Linked DNA regions of Homo sapiens: region 2 is linked to region 1. Evidence: fine-mapped expression QTL. Tissue or cell type: fibroblasts. Region 1 holds a variant in brackets; the other region holds the start of a gene. All regions are shown on one strand. Distances are from middle to middle.

Region 1 (8,253 bases):
TGACTTCCTGAAGTCCTGGGGTGTTGCTTTTGCACATACATATACAGCTTTTCCCCTATGCCTTGTTTGTTGATCTGAGTTTTGCCCTTTTTTCCCTTGACAGTTAGACACTGCCATTCAAGCTTTGTTTCTGTCCTGTTTTATTCCAAGTGTCTTTTTGTTAATATACCTGCACCAGTGGGTGACTAGGGGCAATAAAAAGAGATGAAGAACAGACCTGGTTAGCTAAGAAAGATGAAATAACATATTCACAAAACCCTAGCACGGTGCTCAGGTACTGTCCACTTAGCCCTTGACTAAAATAAGTCTGGAACCTCTTCACATTTAAATTTTGTTTTTCTGATCTCATGTTATTGTAAGTACAGAGCACAGTAATTTTGGAAATGATTCTTTTTCTAGGTTTTTTTAACATGTGGGGATTTGGAAGAGTCAGCAAACAAGCCAGCCAACCTGTTAAAAAGCAGCAAGAAAATGCTACTTCATGTTCACTGGAGCTTATTGGAGATTTGATTGGACACTCATCATCTGTGGAGGTATTGCTGTTTAGCCACAGAATGTCCAAGCAACTCCTGCTTTTGCATTTCATTGCTCTTTTCTTTCAGTTGATCTCATAAAGGCATATACTTTTTCTTATATCTGTAGGTGTTTGTCAGATCTGAACATGGAATGGGATAGGCTATAGTATGTGCAGTTAGGGTCTCCCTTTCCGGATATATGATTTGAGGAAACAAGGAATGCATTGCTTTTAAGAATGGTCTTAATCACCATTATTTAGGAGCTGGAGATAGCTGACAGTAAGGGCAGTGTGAATAATGTTGACTATATGACAACAGTAAACAGAGGATGCATGAAGGGTTGTGGTTATATGTGTATACAGTTAAAGCCTTAACAGAATCGAATTCCAGGGGCCTTTATCAAATTCATGAACAGAGTCCTGTTTCTCCTGCCTTTGAAGGATAATAGTTTGTTAGCTTTAATGAAACCTATGCCTTGATTTTCATTGTGCAAATATGAAAGTTTTAGTTGAAAATTATGAAATGCGTAAGCTTTTAACATGTAGAAATCCAGATACATTAATATTTGCTGCAGGCATCATTGCCTGTAGTGAAGGAATAAGATCAGTTGAGGTAACAGATTAGCTGTGAGAACTAATAACAGTGTAATCAGGGCCCTAAGGAATTTCTTAAATTGTTCTTCCCTGTTTCATAGCCAAAGAACAAAAAATTTCTTTTCATTTGAAAGGGCATTCATGCTTAGGAGGAGCAGCGGCAGCATCCTTGTTAGTGAGCATTTCCTGTATTTCAGGCACTGTGCTAAACACTGGCTGCTGGAGTTTACAGAGAGAGATGAAAACAGTCCTTGCCCTCATGGATCTTACCCTTGAGTGGAGAGAAGGGGTATAGACCTAATAGGCTGTTACCCTAGGCTGCATTTGATGGACCCAAGTAAGCAGCAGTGACTCAGAAGAAACATTTCTTGCTGAATCTTGTAAATGGTTAGAGGATATAGGACTTGACACTTGAGCTGAACCTTGAAGTTTAGTAGGATGAGTATATAGCCTTGTCATCATAAGCTCCTTGATGTTGGGGTACAGTGTCATAGTTATCTTTGCTTTCCTCTAACAAGTAGCTCAGTTTTTAACTTTGTGTTTATGGTTGGGAGGTGAGCATGGACTGTGGTAGGCAGAAGGGCAAAGATAGCATTTACGTGGTGGCAAGGAGCACCTTGGCTAGGCCGGAGCGCTGGGTTCCTGTGAACAGACACTAGTAGGGGATAAAGCCTGGGAACGTGGTTTGGGGTCAGATTATGGATGTCCTTGAATGTAAGGCTGAGGAGTTTGGACTTTATTTTTTAAATAGTAGGAACTCATTAAAAAGGTTTTTAGATGGTAGGGAAAACCCCATGTAAAAGACATTCAAAATGTGTTTGAATGTGGCACATTTCTCATTCTATAAAACAGTGTCAGCTTCTTAGGAATTTTCCTGAGTGAAAGTGTTGAGACCTGAACACTTTTAAAAAGCATCTCCAGCTTCGTTGATAAAATCTAGGCTATCTTTGCAGTGTCACCTGAATTTCCTCATTTCTTTTTTTTTCTTTGAGACAGCATCTCACTCTGTTGCCCAGGCTGGAGTGCAGTCTTGGGTCACTGTACTCTCCGCCTCCCAGGTTTAAGCAATTCTCCTGCCTCAGTCTCCCAAGTAGCTGGGATTACAGGTGCCCGCCACCACGCCCAGCTAATTTTTGTACTTTTAGTAGAGATGGGGTGTCACCATGTTGGCCAGGCTGGTCCTCATTTCTATTTTCATCCTTGCTCTACTGGCGCAACCCCTCTACCTGTGTACTGAATTTTGTGTTTTCCAGTTTCCGAAGGAATTCTGCTCCCATGTTTCCTCCCTTCACTCCTGCATCCTCAGCTGAGTCTTATCCTGTGGTCTTCAGAAATGTATATGTCATTTCAGAGAAAACTCTTGTTTTTTTTCCCGAGAGGGAGTTTTGCTCTTGTTGCCCAGGTTGGAGTACAATGGCGCAATCTCCACTCACTGCAACCTCTACCTCCTGGGTTCAAGCGATTCTCTTTCCTCGGCCTCCCGAGTAGCTGGGATTACAGATACCCAGCTAATTTTTAGTATAGACAGGGTTTCACCATGTTTGGCCAGGCTGGCCTTAAACTCCTGACCTCAGGCAGTCCACCCACCTCAGCCTCCCGAAGTGCTGAGATTACAGGTGTGAGCCACCACGCCCGGCCCTGTTTCTCTTTTATTTCACCCTTTCCTTCGAGGACCTCATCCTTTTCATTGATTCACTTTTCTGATACAACTCTTCACCCCATAGTATTCATGCTGCCTTTTGTCAACACTCTGTTTTCCTATTCTTAGCTTCCAGCCTATTCCTTCACTGGGCAAGCCCCTTCCCCTTACTTGGGGCATTTTCTCCCTTTGAAGCTTTTTCTGAATTTCTGTGACATGTCATAGTCTATACTGCATTATTTAGTACCTGATTACATAATCTCTCATTGGTACCTTTATTGTTTCAATTATGATTTGCTTTTCAGAATCTTCTTGAGGGTAGGGACCATAAACGTAGTGCTGACACTTAACACCTATGGATTGAGTATATCTACTTTTATAGAGAGCTGAAGCCAGTGTTTATCTTGGGAAATTTAGAATTCAGACATTTTTTCCATAGCCATTATACAGTATAAGTAATGGTTAAGTAAAACCAATACTTGAAAAATCAGATGATGAAAAAATCTGGAAGAACTATGAGAATTCATGTACTTTACAAAAATAGCTATTCTGTAGTTGAACAATATTAACAAAATTCTGATTAAAATATTAGATATTATTTGTATGTGACTTACCAATACTGAAAAATGAAATGAAGTTCTACACCCAGATCCAAAGGAGTCTTTAAGGCACATATCTCACACGCACATGTGTTAATGTGGTATTAGACACTTCTCTGCTTTTCGGGGTCCCTATAATCAGTTTTAATTTTCTTTACAGATGTTTCTATACTTTGAAGATCATGGACTAGTGACGTGCTCCGCTGATCATCTCATTATTTTGTGGAAAAATGGAGAGCGAGAATCTGGATTGCGCAGTTTAAGATTATTTCAAAAATTAGAGGAGAATGGTGACTTATACCTTGCTGTCTAGTTTAAGGAATTAAAAATACACATGCATGAACCTTGAACATCAAATATCGGGTACTACTCTGAAAACCATTAATATATTGATCACTTAAATTGGTAATTTTTTTTGTCAGTCCATAAAATTCTACATGTTTAAATTTTTTGTGGACCTACCAACCAGGAACATGTTGCTTCTCAGGTCCTAGTATATCCTCCAAAGAATATACCACAAGTTTTTCCATTTGACTTTGAGCTGCTGTTGAAGTGGTGAGTGCTGTGTTTTGAGCTTATTTTGAACCTAGATCCTTGTGAAAGGTACAAATAGAGGTAATAGTTAAGTTATGGCATTTATTAGAAGTTTTATTATTTGGCTTCCTTTAGAATTATTGTGAAGTTTAAAAATAGCCTTTCTCCTGCAAATTTTCCTAGTCTTTAGTAACTGTTAGTGTTCTATATAGCACAAACTTGAATCTCTCAGCCAAAAAAGGGAACATATATACTGTTTAAGTATGGCAAGTTTTCTTTGGTACCAATTTGTTTAGATAATT[T/G]TAAAAATGTTTTTTAGTTCTAGCTACTAAAACCTGTATGAACTCAAATGGATAGGCATCTTGTGAGGGTGTGTTTTTCCCAGTGTGAATTGGCTTGAAGAGCCATGGGCTAAATGGGTACTAGAACAACAACTGCCCCTCATGTACGCCAAGGATGAGCTCTAGATCATTTGAGAGGCACAGTGTTTCCGGAGTCAGGGACTGCAGCTGAGCGCAACTGCCCCATCTGACCACTGACTCAAATACGAACTGCTTGAGACAGACTTCTTTTATGTAGTTCTTTGCAGTGTCCATTGAGACACTATAACCAGCCTTGTAACAATATGTTTTCTCCTTTTGGTGCTAAAAAATGAAAATATTAGAAAGTAGTCTACACATTAAAGATTGAAATTCTTAAACTACTGATGAAGAAAGGGCAACGTGACAGATGTTAGCAGACTGACCCTTCTTACAGAAAACCTACAGATTTATTTGTTCATTATACAAATATACTACAAATATACCCTAAAGGGAATCTCCATAAGTTCTTTTACTAGTTTTAGCTTTGACAGTTGCTTCCACAACTACCTACAAAGACTGGAAGAGTTAAGGTCATCTGAGTAGACCAGTGGCATAATGTTACAAATGAGGAAACTGAGGCCCAGTGCAGTAAGGCCTTGCAATTAAATCTGTAGTGCCCAGTATCACCAAGCAGCTCTAAAAACAGGAACTGAAGACTGAATGAGAAAAGGCTTATATGACTACTTTAAATCCAAACAACATTGAGTCATGAAAAGTTCTATGGAGAAATATTAAAACTTAAGCTACCTCAATTACAGAAGACTTTCTCCCATTATTCACGTGCTTTTTCCTTTAGAAATTCTGCATTGGCCCATACATTTGTAAAGTTGTTTTCTGAAGTTGTATGACACAAGGGAGCCATAGACTTAACTGTTTTACTTCCTAGCCTGTTCTAGGCTAGTATTTTGTGATAGTAATCTATTCAAATGGAGTGGTAGAAATCACATGAATTTTGGAAGCAAATGGTACCGTAAGTACCACAGCAAATTCCTTCTGGTCATTATACAGGCGTACCTCAGAGATACTACAGGTTAGGTTTCAGACCACATCAAAAAAGCAACTATTGCAAATAGAGTGAGTCACATCTAGTTTTTGGTTTCCCAGTGCCTATAAAACTTGTGTTTATACTACAGTCTTAAATTTCTAAAAAATGTACATACCTTAAGAATACTTTATTGCTAAAAAATGCTAACAATCATCTGAGCCTTCAGCGAGTCATAATCTTTTTGCTGGTGGAGGGTCTTGATACTGCTGGCTGTTGACTAAGGTGGTTACTGAAGGTTGGGGTGGCTGTGGCAGTTCCTTAAAATAAGATAGCGATGAAGTTTTCCAAATCAATTGACTTCCTTTCACAAATGAGATCTCTGTAACATGTAATACTATTTAATAGCATTTTACCCACAGTAGAACTTCTTTCAAAATTTAGAGTCTGTCATCTCAAATCCTGATGCTCCTTTATGAACTAAGTTTATAGAATATTCTAAATCCTTTGTTGTCATTTCAACTATGTTTACAGCATCTTCACTGTGGAAATGACTGTCTCCAGAAACCACTTTCTATACACATTCTTAAGCAACTTCTCATCTATTAAAGTTTGATCATGAGATTACAGCAATTCATTCACATCTTCAGGCTCCACTTCTTCCAGACTCCTTTTAATGCTGGAATTTTGACCGCCTCCCATGAATCAGAATGTTCTTAGTGGCATCTAGAATGCTAAATGCTTCCCAGAAGGTTTTCAATTGACTTTGCCCAGACTCTTCAGAGGAATCACTAGTTAGGGCAGCTACAGCCTTATTAAATGTATTTCTTAAATAAATAAGACTTAAAAGTCAAAGTGACTCCTTGACCCATGGACTGCAGCATAGATGTTGTGGTAGCTGGCACGAAGACAACATGAACCTCCTTGTACATCTCCATCAGAACTCTTAGGTGACCAGGTAACATTGTAATGGGCAGTAATATTTGGAAAGAAATTTGAGCAGGTCTCAACCATAGGCTTAAATATTCAATAAACCATGCTATAAACAGATATGCTGTCATCTAGGCTTTGTTATTCCACTTCTAGAGCATAGGCAGAGTAGATTTAACATAATTCTTAAGGGCCTTAAGATTTTTGGACTGGTAAATAAACTCTGACTTCAACTTAAAGGCACCAACTACACTCGCTGGCATTGAACTTCTTCTCCCCAGCTATGAAGTCCTAGATGACATCTCTTCTAATAGAAGACCATTTCATCTTCACAAACTCAGTTGTTTAGTGTAGTCGCCTTCAGTGATCTTAGCTAGATCATCTGGACAACTTCCTGCTGTTGTTGTCCCTTGCACTCTGACGTTAATGGGGATAGTTTCATGAACCAACCTCTGCTTGCTTCCAGCTTTTCTTCTGTAGCATCCTCACCTCTCAGTCTTCGAAGAAAGAATTGAAGAATTAATTAGGCTTTGGCTTAAGGGAATGTTGTGGCTTGTTTAATCTATATAGACCACTCAGACTTTCTCCATCTCAGCAGTAAGGCTGTTTCACTTTCTTGTTTGCATGTTCACTGGAGTTAACACTTTCAAGAACTCTTCCTTTGCATAACTTGGCTAACTGGTGTAAGAGGCATGGCTTTCACCTGCCTGGGCTTTCAACATGCCTTCTTCACTAAGCTTTATTATCTGTAGCTTTTGATTTAAAGTGAGAGACATGTGACTCTTTTACTTGCACATTTACAGGCTACTGTAGGTTATTAATTGGCTTAATTTCGATATTGTTGTGTCTCAGGGAATAGGGAGGTCTAAGAAGAGGGAGAGACTGGAAACCGCTAGTTGGTGGAACAGTTAGAATATACACAAGATTTATCAATTAAGTTCACTGTCTTATACGGGCATGGTTTGCAGTACCCTAAAACAATTACAGTAGTAACAAAGATCACTGATCACAGACCACCATGACAGATACAAGAATAAAAACATTTGAAATACTCTAAGAGTTACCAAAATGTGACACTTACACAAAGTGAGCCCATGCTGGGAAAATGCCCCGATAGACTTGCTCTATGCAGGGTGGCCACAAGCCCTCAATTTGTAGAAAAGGCAGTATCTTTGAAGCACAATGAAGCAGAATGCAATAAAATGAGGTATACTTGTATTCTAATTTTCTGCCATGAAAAACTGTCTAGAGGGCAGTCTCCAACCCTAGGGACTAGATTGCTTTTGTTTTCATGCATGCCCTAAGGTCACAGAGATGGGGGATAACAGTATGATGGGAGATTCTGGTAGGGACTCAAACCTGATGGTGTTCAGTAGTTGCAGGTAGACTGCTGCTAAAAGTTGGACTTTCAATTTAGAATAAAATAATGGGTCAATGTATATTATGTACATTTTCTCCATTTCCTGAGTTTAGCTTTCAACAGTTAAGATACTTGCAACAGCAGAAGTAACACTACATAGTGTTACAGTGTACAAATCCCTTGTCATTTTTATTTTAAAATATATTTATTACCTCAGTCTCTGGCTATATTCACATAGCGCAAGGGCACAAGATCATCCCTTCTGTTTCTCTCTCTAAAGCTGAGTAGGTTCTGAGTGAACTGACAGGCTTGTTTTTTTTTTGCCCAGAATGCTAACCAGTCCTGACATGGAGGGCAAGTAAATTTAAAAATCTTAAATTAGAAATAAAGAATGATCTTAGGAAATTATAGGGTCATTCTGGTCCAGCAGTGTTTTATAACTGGCTTCCTTCTCTTACTAGTCACGGAAATTATTAGAGAGTGTTGCATTTTCCTAATACGGCCCTCCTCAGCACATGACATTTAAGTAAACAACTCTGTGTAAGAGGCAGTTATAATAGTTTATATAATATAAACTATCTGATACACATATCATCTGAAAGCCTGTATTTCTAACAAGTTGACTATGTGGAAGAATAGACTAGTTCGCAGGCCAGAAGATTATACCGTAGATTACACTGGTAAAGAGCAGAAATTGTTGACGCTTTAGTACCTAGCTGTCTTAAAGCATTTTTAAACA
Region 2 (8,000 bases), 220 kb after region 1:
AAACTATATCATCTCTGAACAGCTGGCAGCTTATACTATGTTACATCCTGGCTTGAGGACTTACTTTCCTTCAAAAGGAAGAATTACCTGATAGTCCTTAAAAATTCATGGAACTACTGAAGAAAGTCATGAAAATAAGGAAAATGTGCTCATTCATTCTAATTAATGTGCTGGGAAAAGAAGGGACTAAATTGTAATCATATATACAATGGCAGAAGGCAAACTTGGATTTTATGAAATCAGCTTGCAGGACTCATTTGAGCTTATTAAACTTTATACTTCATTTTAAAATGAAAAATGATGGTGAAAGGCCTAGCAAGAATTCCAAGAGCTGAGAAGAGAATATGTGCCTGTATCATGTAACATCCAGCCTTGCTTTAGACTTCTGTTGTGGTGGCAAAGCAAGACATTAGGACCTGTACAAACCCAAAAGGATCCTGGGGAAAACTTAACCTCAAGAAACCAGAGTTGGTTACATGATCCAACACTCCTCACTTACAGACTTTTTAGCCAATCTCGGAGGCTCAGCGTTTTGACTTCCTGTACAGGGATAGCAGGTTTCCCATACAGAAGTGAACTAAGATGAAAGCAGTGCTATGACCAGTACCCCAGATAAAGACAGTGTGGTACTATGCACTCTGCTAGAGGTGGCCCCACCTCATTCGCCTGGTCAACAGACAGATAATTTAATTCACCACTGTAAAAAGCAGTGGTTCTCAAAATGGGGTCCCCAGATCAGCAACACTAGCATCTCCTGGAAGCTTGTTAGAAATTCAAATTCTCAGGCCCCACCCAAGACCTACTAAATCAGAATCTCTGGGAGTGGAGTCCAGCAATCTATATTTTAACAAGCTCTCTAGGTGATTCTTGCGTAAAGTTTGACTCCAAAACACTGACTTAGAAAACAAAAATGACTTTTTTCCAAAATAGCTCTACTCCTCCCCCAAATAAAATCTCATTATTATTTACCATAAGGTCAGTGGAATATCTATTTATTTTCCTTTTATATATAGTCAACTCAGGATTATCCTCACAAATTCTGGAGTGCTATGGAACAGAAAACATAGCAGTCACTAATAACTGGCTTAGGCACACCATTTTACAGGAGATTTATCCTCCTCATTAGGCTTTGCTTACCAAATTTCATGGATATTTCCTGAATCGCTAGCACCTACAACACAGTCTGGCCACAAATACTGAATGAACAAATGAGCACATTCTGTATGAATGGAGGGAAAACGGGGAGCTGGTGATGCTGCCATCTGGAAACTAACAACATCCTGTGTCTGATCCACAAAAGAGTGAACCTACACAGAGGTCATAGCAAGTTGACGATATTGTCAATAACGATTCTTCTCTACAACTGGCTGTCTAGTCCCAGATGCTCCCAAGTAGGAACAGCTGGTATGAGAAAACTTGTAAGAATCCCTGGTTCTTCCCAGAGAGAGGTTCAACCATCTCCTCTGAGGATTTCTGAACAAGAATTACAAAACTGGCACAATATCAAGAGTGAACATCCTGCAGGATTCTCCTGTTGGAGTACTATTTTTGAAAAGGCAAGCAAAAAGGAAAGAAATTGCTAGGAAGTTGCATTTTCACAGCAATTGGGAGACAAATCTAACTTCTTACCAGAAATGGAAACCCATGTGATATCATTGTACTGCATATGAATTATTAATGCTTATAACCCTTTTTTTTTTGCAAATTAGGTATTCAGGAAGGTTCCTGTTGACATCATGTTTGACATCATAATGCCTCATCATTCTAAAAGCTTAATGAGATGAATTATTGCTAGAAAAGAGAGAGAGAGAGATCAAGCACACATTTTTGCACTCTGGGGAATACCAGAGGCCAAGTAGATAATGAGGATACACTTCATAATTGATGTAAAATGGCCAGGGGGAGGGGGTGGAAACTATTACAACCTTCCACCACTGTAAACAGGACCAAATGGTAAAGATTTTATTTTTCCACCTGTGTGCTTTGGAAAGGGGTGGGGCACCACCACGTGCCTAGCAACTATCTCAAACTCTTACGGCAAAAAAAGAATGCTTAGTCTACAAAAAAATGAATGTAAAGTTTTTATAAAATTATCTCAGCAACAAAAGGGCACAGAACATGTGAACTTTACGATTGAGAAAAGACAATACAACACCGAGTCACAGGCCTAAAAGGATACTATTAAATATATTAGGGCAGTTCTGTGATAATAATTCTGTAAGATTTGCATAAATAACTCTGGTCTCAAATTTCACTTCAAATATATACTTTCTGAGATCCACACAATGCAAAGTAGTGTTAAGTCAATGAACCAGGGGTTTCATTTCCAACATTCCCAGTAATGGGTTAGAGTGAATTAAGCTCTTATTTGGGAATCTTCTTGATAAAGCAAAATGAGTTAAACTCCTACCCAGGTCAAGCCTTTTAATACTTAAGCCAAGTAGCAATGAGATTAATACAAGTTTATACAAGCTGCTAATAATTGGGGCTCATTGTCCCTTCAGTTTTTACTTCATTTGGTCTCTAAGCAGCCTCTTGAGGGAAGTATTAAAAATGTACAGAATGGGTTCATTCAGTATTCTTTCTTCTACTGAACAAACATGGAGTAGCTAGAGTTGCCAAGTACTAAACTGAGATTATAGATATTCTAGAAAACAAAAATTCACAATTTCTCTGGAGCAACCAAAAAAAGTATCACAAAGTTCATGAGCTGTCACAATTTTGAACTACTGCTTCAGGTCTTCAACCGTCAGGCAAAAGGATGGTCTTTACTGATAATATCCCAACTTAATATTTTCACCAAATTTAACATTTTCATCCCTGAAAATTGCTCCTAAAGCTAACTTTGTGTGAACAGGGAGGGGGAGAGAGAGAGAGCTTGACAAAAGCAAAGTATAGCGTTCAGCACATGCCTCTGTAACGAATGGGCAACTGGTAGGTTTGTACTGTCATAAATCCTAGACTCTAGTCTTCAGACATGCTATGCTAAGATCACACTGTTAACATTCAATAGTTAGGAGAGAAAGCTTACTCCTGGCACATAGTAGGTGCTCAATAAACGATGTTTTTACTATAATGGTGATTATGATTACTGCCAGAGAAACACTGCAACCACAAGCAAACATCAGTCAAGCTTCATGTTAAACAATCAGATGCTGTTAAAAAAAAAATAGGTTCATTAAAAAACTTTTGGACTTCCAGATTGAAGCCAAAACATGTTATCCTTCTCCTCACTCCTCCACTGTGGGCTGCCTTCATCCAATGAAGACCAAGTTTTTAACTATTAAAAATACAAATGTGTCTTTGACAAATAATCCATGGAATGGTTCTTGGTAACCTATTGACCAGGTAAAGGCTGTGATTCTATCTGACATTAGGAGTATTTTTTTCTCTCTGTACAATAGGATATGCCATTGTTATCTTGTTTGCTGAAAGGAAAAAAGACCCAGTGCCCAGATTTACACAATGAAAAGCCTCTTGGATTTAACGGTACTTTGAGAACATACGGGAGGACACTATTTAAATAATTATTTTTCTTCTGTCTTTAAGAAATAAATATTTAGCGACTGCTTTAACCATCTAAACAATTTTTTCCACTTCCTCAAAATCCCACTCTCTGGGAAGATCAGTTGTATGTGCAGAATCATCCTCAGACAGCTGTACTGCACTGGAAACCACGTCCCCTCACGGTGGCTCTGCTGACACTCCGAACTCATGGCCCGGTTCTCTCAATTCTGTCTAGGATGCAGCCAACCCAGAGAAACGTTACAGTGACAAACAACAGGTTCCACTCTGCTCCGTTCCCACATCTCTTAAAACACGAACACTCATTCATTCACAAATCCCTACGCTCGGTTCCTGTGCTGAGACTCCAGCCTGGCTGGTAATCCCAGGTAAAAATCGGAATATGGGGCACTATCTATCCTGGTGCTGCAACTGCACCAGTCACCTACAAGGCACGCAAATCCAGCTCAGTGCTCAGATTTCATTCAACAGGACTGGCCACCGAATGCTCTCAATGGTCCCCACCCCTCTTCCTGCATAAACCAAGCCACAGCCTTCCTGCCCTCAAGGAGGAACAGGCCAGCCCACCTGCTTCCTTCTGCGCTCCCTTCCCCGCCCAGTCCCCCAGGACCAGCTAAGGACGCTTCCAGGACCCCTCCAGGGGCCTTTTTCTGACCACATTTCCTGGGCTCCCATCATCTCCACAAATGAAAAGTAAACTCCTCCTTAGTGACAACCTCTCCAAACCAACCGCCTCACGGTCACCCAACTCCGCCGGAGCCCCCTACCCGTGCGAGCCCCGCCGACGGGGCGGACGGCCCCCACGGCGTGTGCCAGCGCGGGGCATTTACCTTCACGCTGGTGTAGCAGGTCTGAGTCTCGGCCTCGGCGCTGCTGCAGCAGTGGCGCCTCCGGCCCCTGCTGGTGGTCGCGGCGGGGGCTGCGGAACCCGCGCTGCTACCGCTGCCCAGCTCGGTGCGGGCCCTGCGGACGCGGGCTACGCTGGGGGGTCCCGACGCGCGGCTCGGGGGGATGGCGTCGGCGGCGTCGGTCTGGACGAAGAGGCCGGGCAGGGGTGCCGCCGGGCCCTGCGACACGCTGGTGGTCTGGCGGGGCGAGCTGGACTCGTCCGAGTCCCGGCAGTAGATCACGCCGCTCTGCGAGACATGGATGCTGGGGGCGCAGCCCATCCCTCGGCCGGGCTCCCCCGCGCGCCCGCCCGCGCCCGCGGCCGCCGGGACCCAGCGCACCCGCTGCCACCTGCAGTGAGGGGGCGGCCGCGGCGGCGCCCGGACTGCGCGCCCCCCGGCCTGTGTGTCCGCCGCTCCGTCGGGCTGGCCGCGGTGCCCCCCGCCGAGCCTCCGGGGACCGCGCGCGTCACCCCAACTTTCCCTTTTGGGCCATCTTCCTCCCCGAGCGGGGGAGCGCGCATACACAGCGCCCCGCGCGCACCAGCGGCCGCCACCCTCCCCGCCGCGGCGCCCCAAACACGCTCCCCGCGCCTCCGCCTTCCCCTCCTCCCTCGGCGCGGCCCCCGCCGCCGCCCAGCTCGACCTCGCCGGGCTCCCGCACCCGCGGCCCTGGGCCAGGGCGCCCGCCCGCCTGCCCGCCTGCCTGCACCTTCTTTCCCCACTTTCGGTCTGCGCCCGTCCCCTCCCTCCCTCGCTCCCACCCTCCTTCCTCCTCAGGTGCCCCGGCTCCGCGGCCGCAGCCGCCCGGGCCCCACTGCGCCCCTCCGCCCCTCCCGCCGCTCCCGGAGCTCTCCCGACAGGGCAGAGCGTGCCCGCGGCTCGGCTCCGCCGCGGGGCCCCTGTGCGCGGCAGCTGGCACCGCGCCTCGGCGCCCTCCCCTCCTCCTCCGCTGTCCAGAGGCCTCGTCTCTTCTGCACTCATCCCGACGCCGCCCCCAGCGCCCCAGCCCCTCTTCCCCTGAAGGGCTGTGTAAGCCTCTCGCTTTTCACCAACACATTTTCACACATCCCAGAGCTAAACACCAGGAGGCCCCTCCCGAAATGGCAGGGGCCCTACAGCCCAGGCCCACCCACCGCATTTGCTTGCCTCTCAACACACCCGGGAAGTGATGGAGAGACCTCATGGTTCCGTCCTCTTCCCCCAGCCCCACCGCCTACTCCGAAGGCTGAGTTGGATGGTGACCCAGTCTTCAGAAGAAGCCCATTCCATGTCTACTCATCGTTTGGAAGTTTGTGCCAAGGGATGGGAGGCCCTGCGGAGGAAGGCACCCTTGAACACATACGTTCCCCTAAGATCCAAGGCAAGAACAGAAAGAAGCTGTCTGATGGTTCTTGGCTTTCTCCCCCATTTTCACCTCTTCCTTAGGTGTCACTAAATGTTCATGCTGGTTTCTATCCCGTCCAGCCGCCCATGTCAACTGCTGTTCCTCACACTCTGGGCTGGGCAGTCAACAAGGCCTTCCCTCATTCTCCTTGGTGAGGCATGCACAGACTGAGCTGTGCTGGAGGAGAGGAAGAATGCCTTTAGAAGGATGGCTGCTGTTCATCCTTCCCTTGTAAACTCTGAGTTACAGCTGCGAGACACCACTGCCCATTCAGTCACTGGTTCCCGCAGTAATTCCTGCCCGATTTTCACAATGGCACGGGGAGATAAATTAGATGGTCTAAGAAAGGATTTTATCTAGAGTTGCTTATACGGACAAGGGCAGTAACATAGAGGCTTAATGCAAGGCACAAAGAAGTATCCAATTTTAAGGTTTGTTTTTTGTTTTTTTTTCATTCTTATTTTCCTTTTTCTTCCTGGACCACTCTTGGATGTGACTGGATGAAGACTTCAAAAGACAGTTTCTAAATTTCATAGAGAAGCAAGATATCATTCCCAATCCCAAATTCAGTTATACAGGGAGAGTCTAACCTTATTCTTCTACCTTTGCTTCTCTTCTCAGTTTAGCTCTCTTTTTTTGATACAAAAAAACTCCATCTCCAGCTAACCTGGAAAAAGTCTATGCTGTATTTTTTAATGGACAGGCAAATTGCTCATAAAATTTCTGCACAGGTTGGGTCCTCCTAGAAGCAGATTCTGAGATGGTGTTTAGCAGGCAGAGGGAGGCTTTTTAGGAAGTGCTCTTGTAGTCAACATTTGTGGGAGGAAATAAAGGGAGGGAATGGAGGGAGGCAAGCTTGAGCAGAGGGAGAAATTGACCAAGCCTCAGGCATCCCTGCAGGGAGGATTCTGAAGGTGGGATGATGCTTCAGAGTTGTTCTGAGTTGGGGCTGGGTTCTGAGTTGTTCTGGTGGGCCTTTATACCCCAGCATGGACCAGTCTTTACATGCAGGCCACCTCAGCGACCTTGGGCAAGGTGGCTCTCTTCAGCTGAGGCACTGCCCCTAGGAGATGTCAGCTGAGCCAAGGGCTTTCTGCTGGCAGCACTCCCAGTAGCTGGAGGAGTAAGTCCTTTCCTGGCATCATAGCCTCCACCCACAGTTCCCTTCCAGGCTGCTGAGATCCATGTTTCCTTGTCCCATCCATGCCTGTAAGAACACCACATTAAATGGCTGAGACTGAGATATGGGGACAGTCATTCATTTAAAACTAAGCCTCATAGCAACCATCTGCTCTACTTCCAAAGGACAATTTAGGACCTGGGAAAACAACATCAGAGTTAAATTGCAAAAACACTAGTCTCTATACTAGTCCCTGATGTAACGTTCAAGTCAGGGTTTAATGATTCCTAAAGCTTACCTGTGATAATGCATATAGCATTTCAGTCATTACCTTTCATGGAGCTATCAATGACAGCCTTCACATACTGAAATTTACAGCCATGCATATTCTCATGACACATGTCTACTTTTTCAGAGTTTTCTCTAGGAATGCAATGAAACCACCCAGAAAAAAGCACCAGTCACTCACTGAGGCTTTGAAAGGCAAGAAGACTGTGATGAAACAGAAATTACAACCAATCTTCTGGTGGAGAACATTAGGAGCTGAATCATGAAGCTAGAAGTCACCCAGAAACAAATTTAGGTTGAACTTTCTACATTAAAAAATAAGAATAATTAAGCCTTGAAAGAGTAGGTGACCTCAAGGTAGCTAGTGAATAGGACTAGGCTGCTTTAGTGGGTTAACTGAACAGTTCATATTAGGACCAGTGACTTTCATTGACTGCAACTTCTTTGTTGGAATAGAAGATAGAAGGGGAAATGCACTAGGTATACAGTTTTCTTCCCATTCCCAGAGCAGACAGTAGCTCAAACACATCTTCAACTGCCAATTCTGGCTTAGTGAAAGAAAAAAATAATGTGTCCTTATAATCTCCACCAAGTGTTCTCAGTGGGAATGTGCAACCTGCCCCCATTGCTGGAACAGATCTGGCTGCTGAAACTTGCAGAAGTGTGCAAGTGGAGGGGAAATGGTTTAACTGAAATCATTTCCACAGCTTAGTTCTGAAGCCTGAGTTCTGACCCACAGAAGAGATTTCTGAACCAATTGCCACTGACCACTTCAATGCATCCCAGGTGACAG

What was found. PIP is the estimated chance that this variant, and not a neighbour inherited with it, causes the effect.
Region 2: it holds the start of PDE8B, and the variant in region 1 is fine-mapped to the expression of PDE8B in fibroblasts (GTEx, PIP above 0.99).

Annotation. Positions count from the first base shown.
Region 1 is chr5:77,428,541-77,436,793 of GRCh38, reverse strand. WDR41 (WD repeat domain 41) reads left to right here. Exons shown (of 13, transcript NM_018268.4): 12 at 400-533; 13 at 3,507-5,861. The coding sequence ends at 3,659. Among named protein-coding and RNA genes, the nearest start is that of WDR41, 60 kb to the left of the region's middle. The variant T/G (reference allele first, on the strand shown) is at 4,183.
Region 2 is chr5:77,207,620-77,215,619 of GRCh38, reverse strand. It overlaps PDE8B (phosphodiesterase 8B), which reads right to left and starts at 4,940. Exons shown (of 22, transcript NM_003719.5): 1 at 4,356-4,940. The coding sequence starts at 4,694.